Linked DNA regions of Homo sapiens: region 2 is linked to region 1. Evidence: fine-mapped expression QTL. Tissue or cell type: cerebellum. Region 1 holds a variant in brackets; the other region holds the start of a gene. All regions are shown on one strand. Distances are between the middles of the regions. Region 1 overlaps FAM118B (family with sequence similarity 118 member B). Region 2 holds the start of DCPS (decapping enzyme, scavenger).

Region 1 (9,107 bases):
ATTCTCCTGCCTCAGCCTCCCAAGTAGCTGGGACTACAGGCGCCTGTCACCACGCCCTGCTAATTTTTTTTATTTTTAGTAGAGACGGGGTTTCACCGTGTTAGCCAGGATGGTCTCGATCTCCTGACCTCGTGATCCGCCCGCCTCGGTCTCCCAAAGTGCTGGGATTACAGGCGTGAGCCACTGCGCCTGGCCTTTATCTCTGTTTTGAATTCAAAATATTCTTCCAAAATTTGTTACTGCTGTAACTAAAACAACTGACCTACCAAAGCACTTTGGACTAATTTTCTTTTTTCAAATCCCTCCTCAGCGTACCAGTAATGTTCGATCCACATTTTTCAAGGACTGTTTATATGAAGTATTTGATGACTTGGAGTCAAAGATGGAAGATTCTGGAAAACAGCTACTTCAGTCAGTTCTCCACCTGATGGAAAATGGAGCCCTCGTATTAACTACAAATTTTGATAATCTCTTGGAACTGTATGCAGCAGATCAGGGGAAACAGCTTGAATCCCTTGACCTTACTGATGAGAAAAAGGTAAAAAGTAAAGCATTGGTCCCTTCTTCAGGCTAGTGGATTTTATCTTCCTCAGAAAAGCTCTTTTCTAGTTGGTATATTGGTATTTATGTAGAGCTAGAAAGGAAAAATTTTTTCCCTGGTTGGAGTTTTTGTTTTTCTTTTTTCTTTCTTTTTAAAGATCAAATCAATATACAGTAAAATGCATAGAACTTAAAAGTGTTCAGTTCTATGACTCTTGACAATTTCATCCAGTTTTAAAGCAAGATTAGAGGAAGTCACTTGAACTGTAAGATCTCTTTAGCACTTGACAGTATTCAGTGGTGTAATATTGATAATGCTGGTTCTATTTTAGGATACCTTTTTTTATGGCATCTATTGGAAATGTATGAAAACTACTTTATACTGATTGGAAGAACAACTTCCAGGCCAAGCGATGGCTGAATTGAGGTTAATGTTTAGTGGAAACCTCAGCAGACTTTGTTTTAGCATAGTCTATACTGTACCTACCATAATTATTGAATTATAGATGTTGATCTGTGTCAGCTAATGAGATGAGTTCTTAAAGTCTCATTGGTCCTACTCTGTGATTTTTGTAATGTTTTTTCCTACACTTTGTTTTCCTCAGGAATCTGCCTTTATGTCCAATTTAGAGCCCAACTAAGTAGAGTTGAATAGACAAGTGATTTGCCTGCTGGCATTCAGTACTACAGTATTGCCCCTGCCAGAGTGGTAGCTGAAATACCACTCTTGTGGTTTTGCTGACCTTGATGGCAGGATTTAAAGGGAATTGAATTTAGAGAAAAGCTGCCCCATGAAGACTAGTTTTCTCTGGTCCAAGTGTCTTCCGCCTACGCCCTCATATTCTGTATGGTCAGCTCCTTCTTCATTTATAACTCTCAACCTAGGGATCCCCTCCTGAGAGACCTTCTCTGACCATCCTATTTAAATTGGATACTTATTTTTTTTATCCAGTCTCTTGTCCGTTTCCTTTGTAGCACTTAGTATTAACTTGCAGCTTTTTTTTTTTTTTTTTGAGAGACAGTTTCGCTCTTGTTGCCCTGGGTTCAAGTGATTCTCCTGCCTCACCCTCCTGAGTAGCTGGGATTACAGGCATGTGCCACAACGCCCGGCTAATTTTGTATTTTTGGTAGAGACGGGGTTTCTCCATGTTGGTCAGGCTAGTCTCAAACTCCTGACCTCAGGTGATCTGCTAACCTCAGCCTCCCAAAGTACTGGGATTACAGGCATGTGCCTGGCCGTTTTGTTTTGTTTTGTTTTGTTTTGTTTTGAGATGGAGTTTTGCTCTTGTCGCCCAGGCTGAAGTGCAATGGCATGATCTCAGCTCACTGCAACCTCCTCCTCCTGGGTTCAAGCGATTCTCCTGCCTCAGCGTCCCGAATAGCTGGGATTACAGGCACCCGCCATCACGTCTGGCTAATTTTTGTATTTTCAGTAGAGACAGGGTTTCACCATGTTGGCCAGGCTGGTCTCGAACTCCTGACCTCAGGTGATCTGCCCACCTTAGCCTCCCAAAGTGCTGGGATTACAGGCATGAGCCACCACACCCAGCACAGTTTTTATCTTGGCTGTTTATCTGTTTTCTGACTGTTTACCCCATAGGAATAGTAACTTCACTTGGATAGGTATCATGTTAGTCTTTCTTACCCTCATAACTCAAATACAACCCTCATGTCTCAAATATGACAGTTAGGTGCTTGGTAAATATTTTTTTGATTAATAAATGATTGGGCTGGGCACAGCAGCTCAGGCCTGTAACCCCAGCACTTTGGGAAGCTGAGGCGGGAGGATCACTTGAGCCTAGTTCAAGACCAACCTGGGCATCATAGCAAGACCCCATCTCTACAAAAAGTTTAAAAATTAGCCGGGCATGGTGGTGTTTGCCTGTGGTCCCAGCTACTTGGGAGGCTGAAGCAGGACGATCGATTGAGCTGAGGCAGTCGAGGCTACAGTGAGTTGTGATCACACTGTTGCACTCCAGCCTGGGTGACAGCATAAGATCATGTCTCTAAATAAATAGGCTGGGCACAGTGGTTCACGTCTGTAATCCCAGCATTTTGGGTGGCCGAGGTGGGTGGATCACTTGAGGTCAGGATTTTGAGACCAGCCTGTCCAACATGGTGAAACCCCGTCTTTACTAAGAATACAAAAACTAGCTGGGAGTGGTGGTGCACGCCTGTAATCCCAGTTACTTGGGAGGCTGAGGCAGGAGAATCATTTGAACCCAGGAGGCAGAGGTTTCAGTGAGCCAAGATTGCGCCACTGTGCTCCAATCTGGGCAACAGACCAAGACTCTGTCTAAAAACAAACAAACAAATGATTGAAATTTTAAAACTAGCAGCTTCTATGCTATTTGTGATAAAATTTCCAAAGATTATGACCAAGTGTGTTCATGGATATCAGAAGCATAAGGACCTTTTAAAAGCTGAGGATATCTATCACATTTGATGTTTTCCTTCTCATTTCATCCTTGGGCCTCAAGATTTGCATTGTATTTTCAGCCCACATTAGGGGCAGTGTTGCAGTCTAATGGTTAAAGACATTGACTGGTAGTCAGAATGGGGCCTAGTAACATTCAAATTCTAAATCTCGGTGCCTCTTGACTACTTTCCTGATTCATAGCCTATTTCTCCAAAATGTGATAAGAATAAATGTATGCTGTCTCCAGTCCTTGGGAAAATGGAGCCATGGAATCAGGTGGCTATTGCATTCGCTGTTGTCTAAATGATTGTTCTTCGCTGGCAGCCTTTTAGGTTCCTCAGAGGTGACTGAAGTGATTTTTCTATCACTTATCTATTGCTGTACAAGTAATGGCCGTGAAACTTTGTGGCTTGTAACAACAAATATCTTATCTGCCCATGATAAAGTATATTAACAATTTGAACTGGGCTCAGTGACTCAGCCAGGCATTTTTTCTGCTGATTTTTGCACCCTCTTCACATACCTGCAGACATCTGATGGCCGCACCAGGGCTGAGTGATATAAGGGGACCATACTTCCCTGCAAGCAATTGGCCAGGCCATATATGTCCCAGCAGGCTAGCCCAGGCTTCTTCACTTTCTTCGCATGGCAGCTGGATTCCAAAAGTAACACAAGAGAAGTAAGACTTCTTGTGCCAACACTTTTCAAGCTTCTGCTTGTGTGTGTTTGCTAGTATCCCATTGGCTAAAAGCAAGCCATGTGGTTAGCCTGGAGTCACTCCGAAGAGGGGCCACACAAGGGCCTGGATACAGAGGCTTGATTTCTTGGGGCGATCACTGAAGCAGTTGTCCATAGCTCTCATGCATGCCACCAGTGCAAAGGGTCCCTGTTGTTTCTGCAAATTATGACAAATTGTGATTTTTGATGCTTACTTTCAAAGAGAAATCACCAAATTTGTTGCCATCATTCTTGACAGTCATTCCTGAAGTGGAAACTTAGACCACATCAGGTTTTGCATTCTTGTCCTATATCATGAAGCTAGAGAGTTTATGTCAGAAGTCTAGTCCTCAAAACAGCCTCTTGCCCATTGTGACCTTTAAACAGGTGCTCAGCCCTGCCAAGCTGGTTGGGCTATATGTGTGTTGTGCAGGTCCTCGAGTGGGCTCAGGAGAAGCGTAAGCTGAGCGTGTTGCATATTCACGGAGTCTACACCAACCCTAGTGGCATTGTCCTTCATCCGGCTGGATATCAGAACGTGCTCAGGAACACTGAAGTCATGGTGAGTGGGGCTGATCTTGCTGGTCTCAGGAACTCCTTCCTGGGAAATCTCTCTAAATATGCCATAGATCTTAAAGGGGAACATCTTCTTTTCATTAAGTGAAAACGGAAGGTCAGGGGCTAGGAGCAGTGGCTCATGCCTATAATCCCAACACTTTGGGAGGCCAAGGGGAGAGGATCACCTGAGGCCAGGAGTTCGAGACCAGCCTGGGCAACATAGCGAGACTCTTGTCTTTACAAAAATAAAATTAGCTAGGCATCATGGTGCATGCTGTCCCAGCTACTTGGGAGGCTGAGGCAGGAAGATTAGTTGAGACTAGGAATATAAGGCTGTAGTGAGCTGTGTCTAGAGCCACTGCACTCCAGCTTGGGTGACAGAGCAAGGCCCTATCTCTAAAAAAAGAAAGAAACTGGAAAGTCAGACGTTCTTCCTGTGCTTCTTAACTTATGGGTGTGCATGCTGTCTAGGAAATGTAGAATTTCTCTTAAGGTGTCAAACCCTATGAT[C/A]TTTGTTTGTACTTAATTGACAACCAGCAGATGGCATGTCATCATTGGCATCATCTTCACATACAAAGGATACATTAGTACCCTTTATCATCATTTGGTTTATTAATAGCCCTCTCTGTGTCAGAAATAATTGAGGCAGCTTCTTAACAAACCAACCACTACTAGAGAATACATTCTAAAGAGACTTTGTATAAATGGCAATGGGCTTATATTGAATTAACCACATTTATTCACACTTACTCTTTGTGAAAAGCTTATTGATCTTTTGGGATGCACATTTTCGACTTGTTCAGATAAACATGTTCAAACCAGAAGTATTCGCTGCCCCCAGCTCTAAGAATCTTGTTTGCTGTTTTCAGGACTGGGTCATATAGATTATAGCATCTTTTAATAATGAGGCAAAAGACCGAGAAAATGTATTGTCTAAAGCACAAGGGACTTTTTTTTCTTTTTACCCATTCTTTCCCAACATCTGCCATAACTGCATCCATCTCTGACATTGAGTGATCCCTTAGGCAGTCATTTCTGTGTTTTTGTGTGTGTATATGTATACACACACACACACATACTGATGTTCTAAGTATCAAACGCCTTTCCTTGAGCAAATCCGATGATGGAATTATCTTCTCTGGTGATTCACAGTTCAGTTTGTGAGACAAAGGCAAATATGGTCCAGAAATGGAAGGATTAAGATATATGAAGACCTACTCTTTGCACAATGACCTCTGGGCACATAAATCTAAAAAAGTACGCCTGTAATCCCAACACTTTGGGAGGCTGAGGCAGGCAGATCACATGAGGTCAGGAGTTCCAGACCAGCCTGGCCAACATGGTGAAACCCTGTCTCTACTAAAAATAGGAAAATTAGCTGGGCGTGCTGGCAGGTGCCTGTAATGCCAGCTACTTGGGAGTCTGAGGCAGGAGAATCGCTTGAACCTGGGAGGCAGAGGAGGTTGCAGTGAGCCAAGACCATGCCACTGCACTCCAGCCTAGGTGGCAGAGCAAGACTCTGTCTCAAAAATAAAATAAAAATAAAAAAGTAAACTACTGGCCAAGTGCAGTGGCTCACGCCTGTAATCCCAGCACTTTGGGAGGCCAAGGTGGGTGGATCACTCGAGGTCGGGAGTACCAGACCAGCCTGGCCAACATGGCAAAACCCCGTCTCTACTAAACATTCAAAAATTAGCTGGGTGTGGTGGTGCACACTTGTAATATACTCGGGAGGCTGAGGCATGAGAGTCACTTGAACCAGGGTGGTGGAGGTTGCAGTAAGCCGAGGTCACACCACTACACTCTAGCCCAGGTGAAAGAGTGAGACTCCGTCTCAAAAAATATATAAAGCATAAAAAATAAAGAAGTAAACTACTGCACCAGTACACTGACACCAGCTCTATGAAACGCTGATTAGAGAGCCTACAGAAGAATGGCAGGTAAAGATAAAATTTTAGACCAATCATCAAGTTACAGCAATAAGCAAGAGATCACACTCCTTGATGGGACATACCAACCCACTTAAGTCTTGCTTAATTGGTCATCACAGTCTGCTCAACGTAGCATGACCTTCTTGTTTCAGACTTGCCTTGAGTGTGTCTTCACAATGTCAATATGTTGTATCTTTTCCTTCCAGAGAGAAATTCAGAAACTCTACGAAAACAAGTCATTTCTTTTCCTGGGCTGTGGCTGGACTGTGGATGACACCACTTTCCAGGCCCTTTTCTTGGAGGCTGTCAAGCATAAATCTGACCTAGAACATTTCATGCTGGTTCGGAGAGGAGACGTAGATGAGTTCAAAAAGCTTCGAGAAAACATGCTGGACAAGGGGATTAAAGTCATCTCCTATGGAGATGACTATGCCGATCTTCCAGAATATTTCAAGCGACTGACATGTGAGATCTCCACAAGGGGTACATCAGGTAAGATGCATTTTGAAGCTGAGGGGAATCAGAGAACAACAGCTCTTCAGCCTTTTGTGTATTTGTGATGTGATGGGCAAAATAGTTGCCAAGATGAGGAATGTAATGACTGACCAAATTGTAAAGGAGGCCACAGTCTTCAGGTTAGACTAAAGTGCCACTTGGATTATGGGAAGACAGACAAAAAGGAATACTTGAGCAGTTCAATATAGACATAGGAAGAATGAAGAAAACAGATGTTCAGCCTCACTAGTTATCAATGAAATGCAGTTTGAATTTAGATTACAAAATAGCGAAGAAAGATCACCCAATTTTGGCTAAGGCTGTGAGAAAATAAATTTATTCATGGAGTATTTGTGGAAAGGTAAAGTTAGTACAACTTTTATGACCATAAATTAGAAGATGTAACAAAAATTTTCAAATCTTTGACCTAGAAATCCCATCAAAACAATTTATCCTAGAAGTTTCTCATAAGGAGATAATTGGATGATTGCACAATCACACAATTGTACAAAGATGCATGCGTGGGAATGTAATTTCCATTGAATGTAGTGGCAAAAAATTGGAAGGATCCTAAAATTGGTGGAGATTCTACAGATATGCCAATATTTATTTAATTGATGAAATACAATGAAACCATAGAAGGGAAAGTGTTTTCATTGCCATAAAAAAAAAAGTTAGAGACATATGAGTAAAGGAAGAAAAAGCAGGTTGTAAATACCATGGTCAGCTATATTCATATAGAATTGTACATTTTTTTTTTTTTTTTGGTGCGTGTAGAAATGTATCTGGAATGTTTACTAAATTAAGTGGCTATCTTTAGTAGGATTTAAAGTGTTGATTTTTTGGTTTCTGTATTGGCATTTTCTATGATGATTATGTATTATATTTACAAACAGAAAACTTACTTTTAGAAATGCTATTTGGAAACGGATAATGGTGATATTCAAGTCAGAGGATAGGGGTATCATACACTTGATATTTTACCTCCACATTCTAACAATAAAGAGCAAAATGGTGATTAAAGATTCAGCTGATTAGTGGCTGCAGGCAAATTCCCAGTAACCGCACAAAACACAAACATTTTTGGTATCAGCTAAACTGAAGAATGCTTTTTCAAAACCTCACATTGCCAGGCTCCAGAGTATGGCTAGTGTGACTCATCCATCTAATTCCAAAAAAACTTGGCTGTTGTGCACAGAATATTTCCTGAAAACTTATGTAAGTATTTTCATTGTCAACCTGAATGCATCTTAGGAGGGCAAAAGTACAGGTAATTTGTCCTGTAATCCCAACACTGTGGGAGGCCCAGGTGGGAGGATCACTTGAGGCCAGGAGTTCAAGATGAGTGTGAGCAACATAGTGAGAACCTGTCTCTGCAAAAAATTAGCCAGGTGTGGTGGCACACACCTGTAGTCCAGCTGCTTGGGAGGTTGAGGCAGGAGGATCACTTGAGCCCAGGAGTTGGAGTCTGCAGTGAGCTATGATTGCATCACTGCCCTACAGTCTGAGCAATAAAGCAAGACGCTGTTTCTAAAATAAATAACATACAGGTAATTTAATAAACATAAAGCAGTTTTCCTAAATCAAATCATCCCCAGATTTCTTAACTGAATCAGATGGCTTCAAGTAGAATTCTCCTGTAATGAAAAATTACACAGCTTCTTCCATGGCTATGCTTTGATGGAACCAGACTTTTAAAAGCCATCACCACATGAACAAGTCTCATTTGTGAAAACTATTTACTATTCTTTGTTGGAAATGAGTTTTTCTGGTGTCCTGCAGTGTTCTAGACTCTCCTGCTGTTGTTTGCCCACACTTGAGACTTTGAGAAGGCTTTTCTGTTGCACATGTTGTTTTCATTAACAAGACATACATATCCAAGTTCTACATATTTCTTTTGATCTATATGCTGAGGAAAGATGCTAAAGTTTAAAACAGCAAAATCCGTCTGCATAACTGTTTCTGTTGCACTAAATCTTAGCAAAAAATAAATATGTCTTTAGACTGTTGCATTACATAACAAAGAAGCAGTAAGGTTCCTTAGTGCACTAAGATTGCTCTAAGGAACCTTAACTGCTATTGTGGAATGGCACAAATTCTTTTATTAGCTGTGTAGGCTTCCTACCAGAGTAGCTTTCCCCGAAGTTACCCATCATTAAGGTGTTCTGTATCTTTAAACAAAATCAAGGATTTTCAGTATGGCCAGAGTGCTTTATGGGAATGGTCAGCTGAGTTTGTCATGTGAAATGTAGTAGAGCAGTTTCAGGTTAAAACATCATTTCATTTTGAAACGAGTCAACCTTATCTTTCACCCTTGCATAATGTTTTGAGTCTCTGTAGATATAGACTAATGAGAGGTTACAGGTCTTTTGCTGTTATTTTGTTTTTTAACACTGAACCTTTGCTATGTGCCTGGCATTGTGCTGTATACTCACTTTTGCATAGTG
Region 2 (9,107 bases), 49 kb after region 1:
TCTAATTAGATTTTCCATTTCTCCTGGAGTCAATTTGGTACAAACAGTCAATAAAGACTACAAGACCAGTTTAAGTAGATTTTTCAGTTTGAGTGTCCTGGATCATGTACACAATCATGAATGTGAAGTCTGTCTGCATGAAGAATCATCTGTGGTTATAAATTCTTAGGAGGTTTTTTCCTTCTTCCCTCTGGAACAACGGTTGAAGCAGGCAAGTTTCCTAATCACCTTCTCTCCTTTAGTAGGGCAGCATTTTTCTTTTTTATAAATAGTTGGCCTGGCCAGGCATGGTGGCTCACGCCTATAATCCTAGCACTTTGGGAGGCCAAGGCGAGCAGATCACCCAAGGTCAGGAGTTCGAGACCAGCCTGACCAACGTGGCGAAACTCCGTCTCTACTAAAAATACAAAAAAATTAGCTATGCGTGGTGGTGGGTGCCTGTAATCCCAGCTACTCAGGAGGCTGATGCATGAGAATCGCTTGAATCCAGGCAGCGGAGGTTGCAGTGAGCTGAGATCGCGCCACTGTACTCCAGCCTGGGCGACAGAGTGAGACTCCGTATCCAAAAAAAAAAAAAAAAAAAAAAAATTGTTGGCCCCTTCATTGAGCTAGTGGACCTTCAGGGTTCTTAGCTCTATAGAAAGTTCTGTATCTTAATTCCTCTTTACATAAGCTCAGGTCTTGTCTCTTGTCCCTTGAATCGGGTCCTAGACGTCTAGAGATCAGCAATGGCCCTTAAAATAGCTTCCACCTTAAAAATCCCCTTACCACTCTATAGATTCAAACTCCCACATCATTTTTGGTTCCTGCAAATTTTACTTTTTTGAGAGCTCAGCAACGTAACTAAAAGAATGTTTTAAATTTTACATCCAGAATGTTCGGGTATTTTGTAGCTGACTTGTTTTCAGTTTAGTCTGTTATAATCCCTGAAATGGAACTGGGAAGTATCCAATCCTTCTTTAGACTAAAAAAGAAAAGATTTGGGAGGTTTTTTTTTTTTTTTTTTTTTGAGACAGAGTCTCGCTCTGTCACTCAGGCTGGAGCACAGTGGTGCAATCTTGGCTCATTACAACCTCCGCCTCCAGGTTCAAGCCATTCTCCTGCCTCAGCCTCCCGAGTAGCTGGAATTATAGGTGCCTGCTGCCACACTCAGCTAATTTTTGTATTTTTAATAGAGATGGGGTTTCGCCATGTTAGCCAGGCTAGTCTCAAACTCCTGACCTCAAGTGATCCACCCGCCTTGGCCTCCCAAAGTGCTGGGATTACAGGCGTGAGCCACCGCACCTTGCGTGGGAGAAATTTTAAGATTTCTGAAAAACAATTGAACAGGGCTTTATAATAAATGAGTAAGCTAATACAGCATTGTCTAGTAGAACTTCCTTTGATAATGAAAATGTTCTCCATCTGTGCTCATACGATAGCCACAAGTGGATATCAAGCACTTGCAAAGTGGCTAGTGTAACTGAGGAAATGAATTTTAACTACTACCATAAAGATTCCTTTCACACTGAGGTCTGGTATTTAATAGAACCTCTGGTAGCTGAGGCTTCCTATGAGCTCATCCTTTCCTTGGCATTCTTTTTTTTTAAGAGACAAAGCCTCGCTCTCTTGCCCAGGCTGGAGGGCAGTGGTGTGATTATAGCTCACTGCAGCCTCAAACTTCTGGGCTCAAGTGGTCCTCCCACCTCAGCCTCCTAAGTAGCTGGGACTACAGGTATGAGCCACCACGTGGGGCATGAGCCAGGCCTTTTTGAAGAGTAGAATTCTGGTTTTATATTTTAATCAAAATTATACCCATATTGATTAATTTTGCCGCTAATGAATACATTTCTCTACTATTTCATTTCAAATGTTTCTATTTTGCTCATTATATTTTAGCTACACAGGTCATTCCTTTTGAGACAGAGTCTTGCTCTGTCACCCAGGTTGAAGTGCAGTGGCGCGACCTTGGCTCACTGCAACCTGCACCTCCTGAGTTCAAGTGATTCTCCTGCCTCAGCCTCCCAGGTAGCTGGGATTACAGGCGCACACCACCACACCCAGCTAATTTTTGTATTTTTAGTACAGACTATGTTTCACCATGTTGGCCAGGCTGGTCTCGAGCTCCTGATCTGAAGTGATCCGCCCACCTCAGCCTCCCAAAGTGCTGGGATTACAGGTGTAAGCCACCATGCCCCACGGTCATTCCTATTTTTTAAAAATGTCAAGCACATTACTGCTCTAGGGCCTTTGACAGCTAATATTTACTGTGCCTGGGCTCTTCATATGGCTGATATGGCTGGTTCCTTCTCATCATTCAAGTCTCAGCTCAAATGTCACCTTTTGAGAGGCTGTCCATGATCATCTTATCTAAAGAGCTTGGCCGAGCATGGTGGCTCATGCCTGTAATCCCAACACTTTGGGAGATGGGCAGGTCACCTGAGGTCAGGAGTTTGAGACCAGCCTGGCCAACATGGCAAAACCCCATCTCTACTAAAAATACAAAAATTGGCCAGGTGTGCTAGTGTACGCCTGTAATCCCAGCTACTTAGAAGGCTGAGGCAGAAGAGTCGCTTGAACCTGGGAGGTGAAGGTTGCAGTGAGCCAAGATTGCACCACTGTACTCCAGCCTGGGTGACAGAGTGAGACTCTGTCTCAAAGAAAGAAAAAAAAGGGCGGGGGGGGGGGGCTCCTATCCCCAGGCTCTTTCACACTGTCCAGTTTTGTCCTATTAACAGTACTTGGCCGGGCACGGTGGCTCACGCCTGTAATCCCAGCACTTTGGGAGGCTGAGGCGGGCAGATCACGAGGTCAGGAAATTGAGACCATCCTGGCTAACACGGTGAAACCCCGTCTCTACTAAAAATACAAAAAATTAGCCAGGCGTGGTGGTAGGCCCCTGTAGTCCCAGCTACTTGGGAGGCTGAGGCAGGAGAATGGCGTGAACCTGGGAGGTGGAGCTTGCAGTGAGCCGAGATCGCACCACTGCACTCCAGCCTGGGCGACAGAGGGAGACTCCGTCTCAAAAAAAAACAAAAAACAAAAAACAAAAAACAGTTCTTAATCATTATCTTGTTTACCTCATGTACCCCATTTGAATATACATTTTATGAAAGAAGAGGCCTCGTTGTCTTGCTTAGAACTAATAGCCGCTGGCACATGGAAAATGGAGACCTGGAAAGGTTAAGAGACTTTTCCAAAGTTGCACAGCTAGTCAGTGTTGGGGCCCGACTTCATGGCTCTCAATTATGGGCTCTTTTTGTTAAAACATAGCTACTTTGGCAGGGTGCGGTGGCTCACGCCTGTAATGCCAGCTCTTTGGGAGGCCCAGGCGGGCGGATCACGAGGTCAGGAGTTCGAGACCAGCCTGGCCAACATGGTGAAACCCTGACTCTACTAAAAATACAAAAAATTAGCCGGGAGTGGTAGCAGCCGCCTGTAATACCAGCTACTCAGGAAGTTGAGGCAGGAGAATCGCTTGAACCTGGAGGCAGAGGTTGCAGTGAGCCGAGATCGCGCCATTGCACTCCAGCCTGGGGGACAGATCCTAAGTCTCTCCTAATAATGCTTTCTGCATCACACACACACACACACACACACACAAAGTAGTCCTTTTTTTTTTTTTTTTTTTTTGAGATGGAGTCTCGCTCTGTCACCCAGGCTGGAGTGCAGTGGCGCGATCTCAGCTAACTGCAAGCTCCGCCTCCCGGGTTCACGCCATTCTCCTGCCTCAGCCTCCCAAGTAGCTGGGACTACAGGCGCCCGCCACCACGCCTGGCTAATTTTTTTGTATCTTTAGTAGAGACGGAGTTTCACCACGTTAGCCAGGATGGTCTCGATCTCCTGACCTCGTGATCCGCCCACCTCGGCCTCCCAAAGTGCTGGGATTACAGGCATGAGCCACCGCGCCTGGCCTAAAGTAGTCTTTTATCCAACTCCTAATCTATATTTCTGGTAGAAGTAATCCAAAAATCAAACTAACACATGGTACACTTTGTTATTGACCAAAAACTGACTGTAAATTGCATCTTGTTGCTAACGTTGAGAATGGCAAAAACTGTCCCACACCCATGAGATCTGTCTGAAAACCTAAACTCAAATCACTGGCAAAATAAATGTGTGGCTGACTGAAGCGATGTAAGTACCAACTCTTTTTTTTTTTCTTTGAGACGTAGTCTCGCTCTGTCGCCAGGGTGGAGTGCAGTGGTGCGATCTCGGCTCACTACAATACTCCGCCCGCGTTCAAGCGATTTTCCTGCCTCAGCCTCCCGAGTAGCTGGGACTACAGGCGCGGGCCACCACGCCCGGGTAATTTTTGTATTTTTAGTAGAGACGGGGTTTCACCATGTTGGCCAGGATGGTCTCGGTATCTTAACCTCGTGATCCGTCCACCTCGACCTCTCGAAGTGCTGGAATTACAGGCGTGAGCCACCGCGCCTGTCCGTAAGTACCAACTCTTCACAAAATTTAGATCTGTTAAATAACACCAGTGAAAAACGGGCTAACCAGAAACAATGGTCACCAAAGAAACCCTCAACAGCAGAAGTTACAAGTAATAATTTTATATGGCAAAAAAAAAAAAAAAAAAAAAAAAAAAGAGAAACGAAACCCTGGGAGACGAATCATACTGCAAATCATATCCCTGGGTAGCAGGGCAGAAATACAGGTAAACAAAATAGAGAGGAGGGGGATGCCTCTAGCCCGGAAATAAGTGGGTGGTGGAGATGGTTCTTCTGGCCATATTCGTTTACCTTTTTTGTCAGCAGAAAAGTACTGAGTCTACAAAGTAAAAAACTGACCACGATGAAAATTTCTGCAAAGTAATTAAAATGGGAGAAAAATGGAAATGGCTTAAATACTCGGTATAAAAAATCGACCAAGGAATCAAATGGGCTCACGGATTTGCGTCAGAAACGTTGCTTCCCCGATAATTGGTCAACGTCGGTGTAACTATGATTAAAATGTCAGTATTCAAACAAGGGCTCCAACACTACCGTGGCCCAAGGGCGTCTTCGGCTCCCACCCCGGGGCGTGGGCCTGGGGGTCCCTCTTCACTGCGCAGCCACCTCTAGCCCGCCGCTTTCGGGACTCTCAGCCTTCTTTTCCCTTCCCTGAGGGCCGGCCGGCACCACAACGGGGCCAAAGGCAGTAACTCGGTTGAAAGGCGCGCCCTGGGACAGGTCAGCGGGCTCCGCCATGCGCGGCACGCATCCCGCAGGAGCGGGTGCCAGAGCAGGGTAGGCCGGGAGTTAGCAGCCCAGCCAGGCCGCTGGACTCGGGCTAGGGGCGGGGCCAGCGCAGGGGGCGCAGGCGCACACCGCCTCCGCGGCAGCATGGCGGACGCAGCTCCTCAACTAGGCAAGAGGAAGCGCGAATTGGACGTGGAGGAGGCCCACGCCGCCAGCACAGAGGAAAAGGAGGCAGGAGTTGGAAATGGTACCTGTGCTCCTGTCCGCTTACCGTTCTCCGGCTTCAGACTGCAGAAGGTGCTGAGGGAGTCTGCGCGGGACAAAATCATTTTCCTACACGGGAAGGTACCAGGAGGCAACCCTGAGGTGGGATGCGGGAAGCAGTGAACCAATCATCGCCTCGGAGGCAGATTTTTTTTTTTCGGATCTCGGCTGGAAAATACCAATCATTATCACTCCGGGGAGGCGGGAGTGCGCCACTAGAATGCATAGAGGGGCGGTGAAAGGCGGCAAGATTGCCTTTGAAATTAAGGCAATGAACACATCTAGCTCTAATTTTTCTAATGTCTCCACTAGAAATATCTACTGGGAGAGTGCATTGCAGATTAAAGATCACATGTTACATTCCCCAAGCCATTCATCATCCATTTATGTATACAGGGACTAGGAACCCAGTCAATGTTAGATGTCTCGCTCATCCCTGTCCGTGGAAACGACATGAGACTGTAGGAGATGTGATCTCTGCCTTACGCGACTTCAGCCGTAACAGGAGAACAATATATTATAATTGTTAATTCAGTTCTACGCACGCACTTTCATGCATGCCAGACACTAAACTAGGTACTGGGGATGTGGAGACGAAAGTTACCATCCCTGATCTTCAGGACTACGGAATATTTCTGGCGAGACAGATACACACAGCTTGCTCCAATACCAACGTGCTCAGCAATCTGGCAGGGGCTGAGGAGAGATGGAGACCATTCCAGGAACTAGTGAGGAGGCCTAGCCAGAGCAGATATGGGGGTTCCCCAGAAACTAGTGAGGAGGCCTAGCCAGGGCAGATAAGGGGGTTCCCTAGAACTACTAGCAGGAACTCTCACCTTTGGGAGGATCAGGGAACCTTGGCCTAGGCTTCCATGCCTCTGTGTGTATCTGGTTTTTAAATTTTTATTTATTTATTTATTTATTTTTGAGACGGAGTCTCTCCTCTCTGTCACCCAGGCTAGAGTGCAGTGATGTGATCTCGGCTCACTGCAACCTCTGCCTCCCGAGTTCAAGCTATTCTACCTGCCTCAGCCTGCCCAATAGCTGGGATTACAGGCCCCCGCCACCATGCCCAGCTAATTTTTGTATTTTTAGTAGAGATGGGGGTTTCACCATGTTGGCCAGGCTGGTCTCGAACTCCTGACCTCAGGTGATCCGCCTGCCTCTGCCTCCCAAAGTGCTGGGATTACAGGCGTGAGCCACCGCACCCGCCTTTTTTTTTTTTTTTTTTTTTTTTGAGATGGAGTTTCACTCTTCTTGTCCAGGCTGGAGTGCAATGGCACTATCTTGGCTCACTGCAACCTCCACTTTCTGGATTCAAGTGATTCTCCTGCCTCAGCCTCCCAAGTAGCTGGGATTACAGGCATCTGCCACCATGCCCAGCTAATTTTCGTATTTTTAGTAGAGACAGGGTTTCACCATGTTGGCCAGGCTGGTCTTGAACTCCTGACCTCAGGTGATCCACCCACCTCTGCCTCCCAAAGTGCTGGGATTATAGGCATGAGCGACTGCGCTGGGCCTTGTTTTTTGTTGTTTTTTGTTTGTTTGTTTGTTTGTTTTTGTTTCTTGTTTTCTGTTTTTTTGTATGCGATTCTGTCTGGTTCTCTCAGCCCAGCTGTCTTCAGTGTGCAGCACCTGTTGAAGGTGTTAGTCATGAGAGCCTTCGAGCTAGGAGTCACTTGGGAGACCTAGGTTCTGGTTTCTGTTTCAATGCTGACTGTTCATGTGACCTTGGGCAAGTCACTCAAGGTCTGTTTTTCATCTTCTGAAATGGGGAGAACTTGACAGAGGTCTTGTAAGCCTAAAATGGAAGACAACTGAGAAGCCTTGTATTCTGGGGAAGAAAGGTGTGAGAACTGCCACAAGGATTTGGGTGGAGATGCCTTCTCTGGCTGGGCATGGTGGCTCACACCTGTAATCCCAGCACTTTGGGAGGCTGAGGCAGGCATATCATTTGAGATCGGGAGTTCAAGACCAGCCTGGCCAACATGGTGAAACCCCATCTCTACTAAAAATACAAAAATTAGCCAGATGTGGTGGCATGCGCCTGTAATCCCAGCTACTCAGGAGGCTGTGGCGGGAGAATTGTTTGAGCCCAGGAGGTGGAGGTTGCAGTGAGCCAAGATCGCGCCATTGCACTCCAATCCGGGCAACAGAGCAACACTCCATCTCAAAAAAAAAAAGATGCCTTCTCTGAGAAAAGAAATGTGAAATGTGAGTGCCATTGGCTAGACTTCCCCAGAGGGAAGACTTCAGGGAAGGAAATCCCAAGTATTGGGAATTCAAAGGCCCTGGGAGCTTCTGTCTTGCTCTCCAGAGTCTCATCGTGGTTCTGCCCTTGAGCCCACTGATGATGCCTCTGCCCACAGGTGAATGAGGCCTCTGGGGATGGGGATGGAGAGGATGCCGTTGTGATCCTGGAGAAGACGCCATTTCAGGTGGAACAGGTGGCTCAGCTCCTGACGGGCAGCCCTGAGCTCCAGTTGCAGTTCTCCAATGATATCTACAGCACCTATCACTTGTTCCCTCCAAGACAACTGAATGGTGAGCAAGAGGTGGCCAGGGTGGCTGTATGGAGGGAGAATGGGATGGTGGGAAATTAGGTGGTATGGTGACCAGACTCTCTATACCCGATTTGCATATTCTAGTACAATAGGGAGATTACTTCCCTAGGGGACATTTGGCCATCGGTGAAGACATTTTTGATTGTCAGAATCGGGGGTGGTGGTGGGGTGTTGCTTCTGGCATCTAGTGGGTGGAGATCAAGAATGCTGCTAAACACCTTACAATGTACAGGACAGGCTCCCACAGCAAAGTAATGTCAATAGTGCTGAAACTCAGAAACCTGGCCAGGCATGGTGGCCCACACCTGTAATCCCAGCACTTTGGGAGGCCACGGCGGGCAGATCACCTGAGGTCAGGAGTTCAAGACCAGACTCTCGGCCAACATGGTGAAACCTCATCTCTACTAAAAATACAAAATTTAGCTGGGCATGGTGGCGTTCACCTGTAATCCTGGCTACTTGGGAGGCTGAGGTGGGAGACTCGCTTGAACCCAGGAGGCAGAGGTTACAATGAGCTGAGATTGTGCCACTGTACTCCAGCCTGGGTGATGGAACAAAACCCTATCTCAAAAAAAAAAAAAAAAAAGAGAAACCTTGTTGTAGTGTAGTATGTTTTAGGGAGAGAGTGTGATTCATGGGATAGAATAATATATATATATTTTTTGAGATGGAGTCTTGCTCTGTTGCCCAGGCTAGAGTGCAGTGGCGCGATCTCGGCTCGCTGCAACCTCCGCCTCACAGGTTCAAGCAATTCTCCTGCCTCAGCCTCCCGAGCAGCTGGGATTACAGGCGCCCACCACCACGCCTGGCTAATTTTTGTATTTTTAGTAGAGTCAGGGTTTCCATCATGGCCAGGCTGGTCTTGAACTCCTGACCTCGTGATCCACCCGTCTTGGCCTCCCAAAGTGCTGGGATTACAGGTGTGAGCCACCGTGCCCAGCCAGAATAATAGATTAATCTACTAATTGAATGATAAAAATTGTCAACAACACTTAGGAAATCCTTACTATTGTATCTACATGTATTAACACAGTTAATCCTCAAAACAGCCCTCTTGTAAGGAGGACTTTACGAATGAGGAAACCGGTTTTTGAAAGGTTAAATAACTTGT

The links. PIP is the estimated chance that this variant, and not a neighbour inherited with it, causes the effect.
Region 2: DCPS starts here. The variant in region 1 is fine-mapped to the expression of DCPS in cerebellum (GTEx, PIP 0.98).

Annotation. Positions count from the first base shown.
Region 1 is chr11:126,250,196-126,259,302 of GRCh38, forward strand. FAM118B (family with sequence similarity 118 member B) reads left to right here. Exons shown (of 9, transcript NM_024556.4): 5 at 311-538; 6 at 4,110-4,238; 7 at 6,372-6,657. It also overlaps a transcript of SRPRA not described here. Among named protein-coding and RNA genes, the nearest start is that of SRPRA, 14 kb to the right of the region's middle. The variant C/A (reference allele first, on the strand shown) is at 4,745.
Region 2 is chr11:126,298,769-126,307,875 of GRCh38, forward strand. It overlaps DCPS (decapping enzyme, scavenger), which reads left to right and starts at 5,292. Exons shown (of 6, transcript NM_014026.6): 1 at 5,292-5,513; 2 at 7,802-7,976. The coding sequence starts at 5,313. It overlaps TIRAP-AS1 (TIRAP antisense RNA 1), which reads right to left and starts at 5,554. Exons shown (of 2, transcript NR_187388.1): 1 at 5,420-5,554. RefSeq lists a silencer at 5,250-5,379 and an enhancer at 7,038-7,327.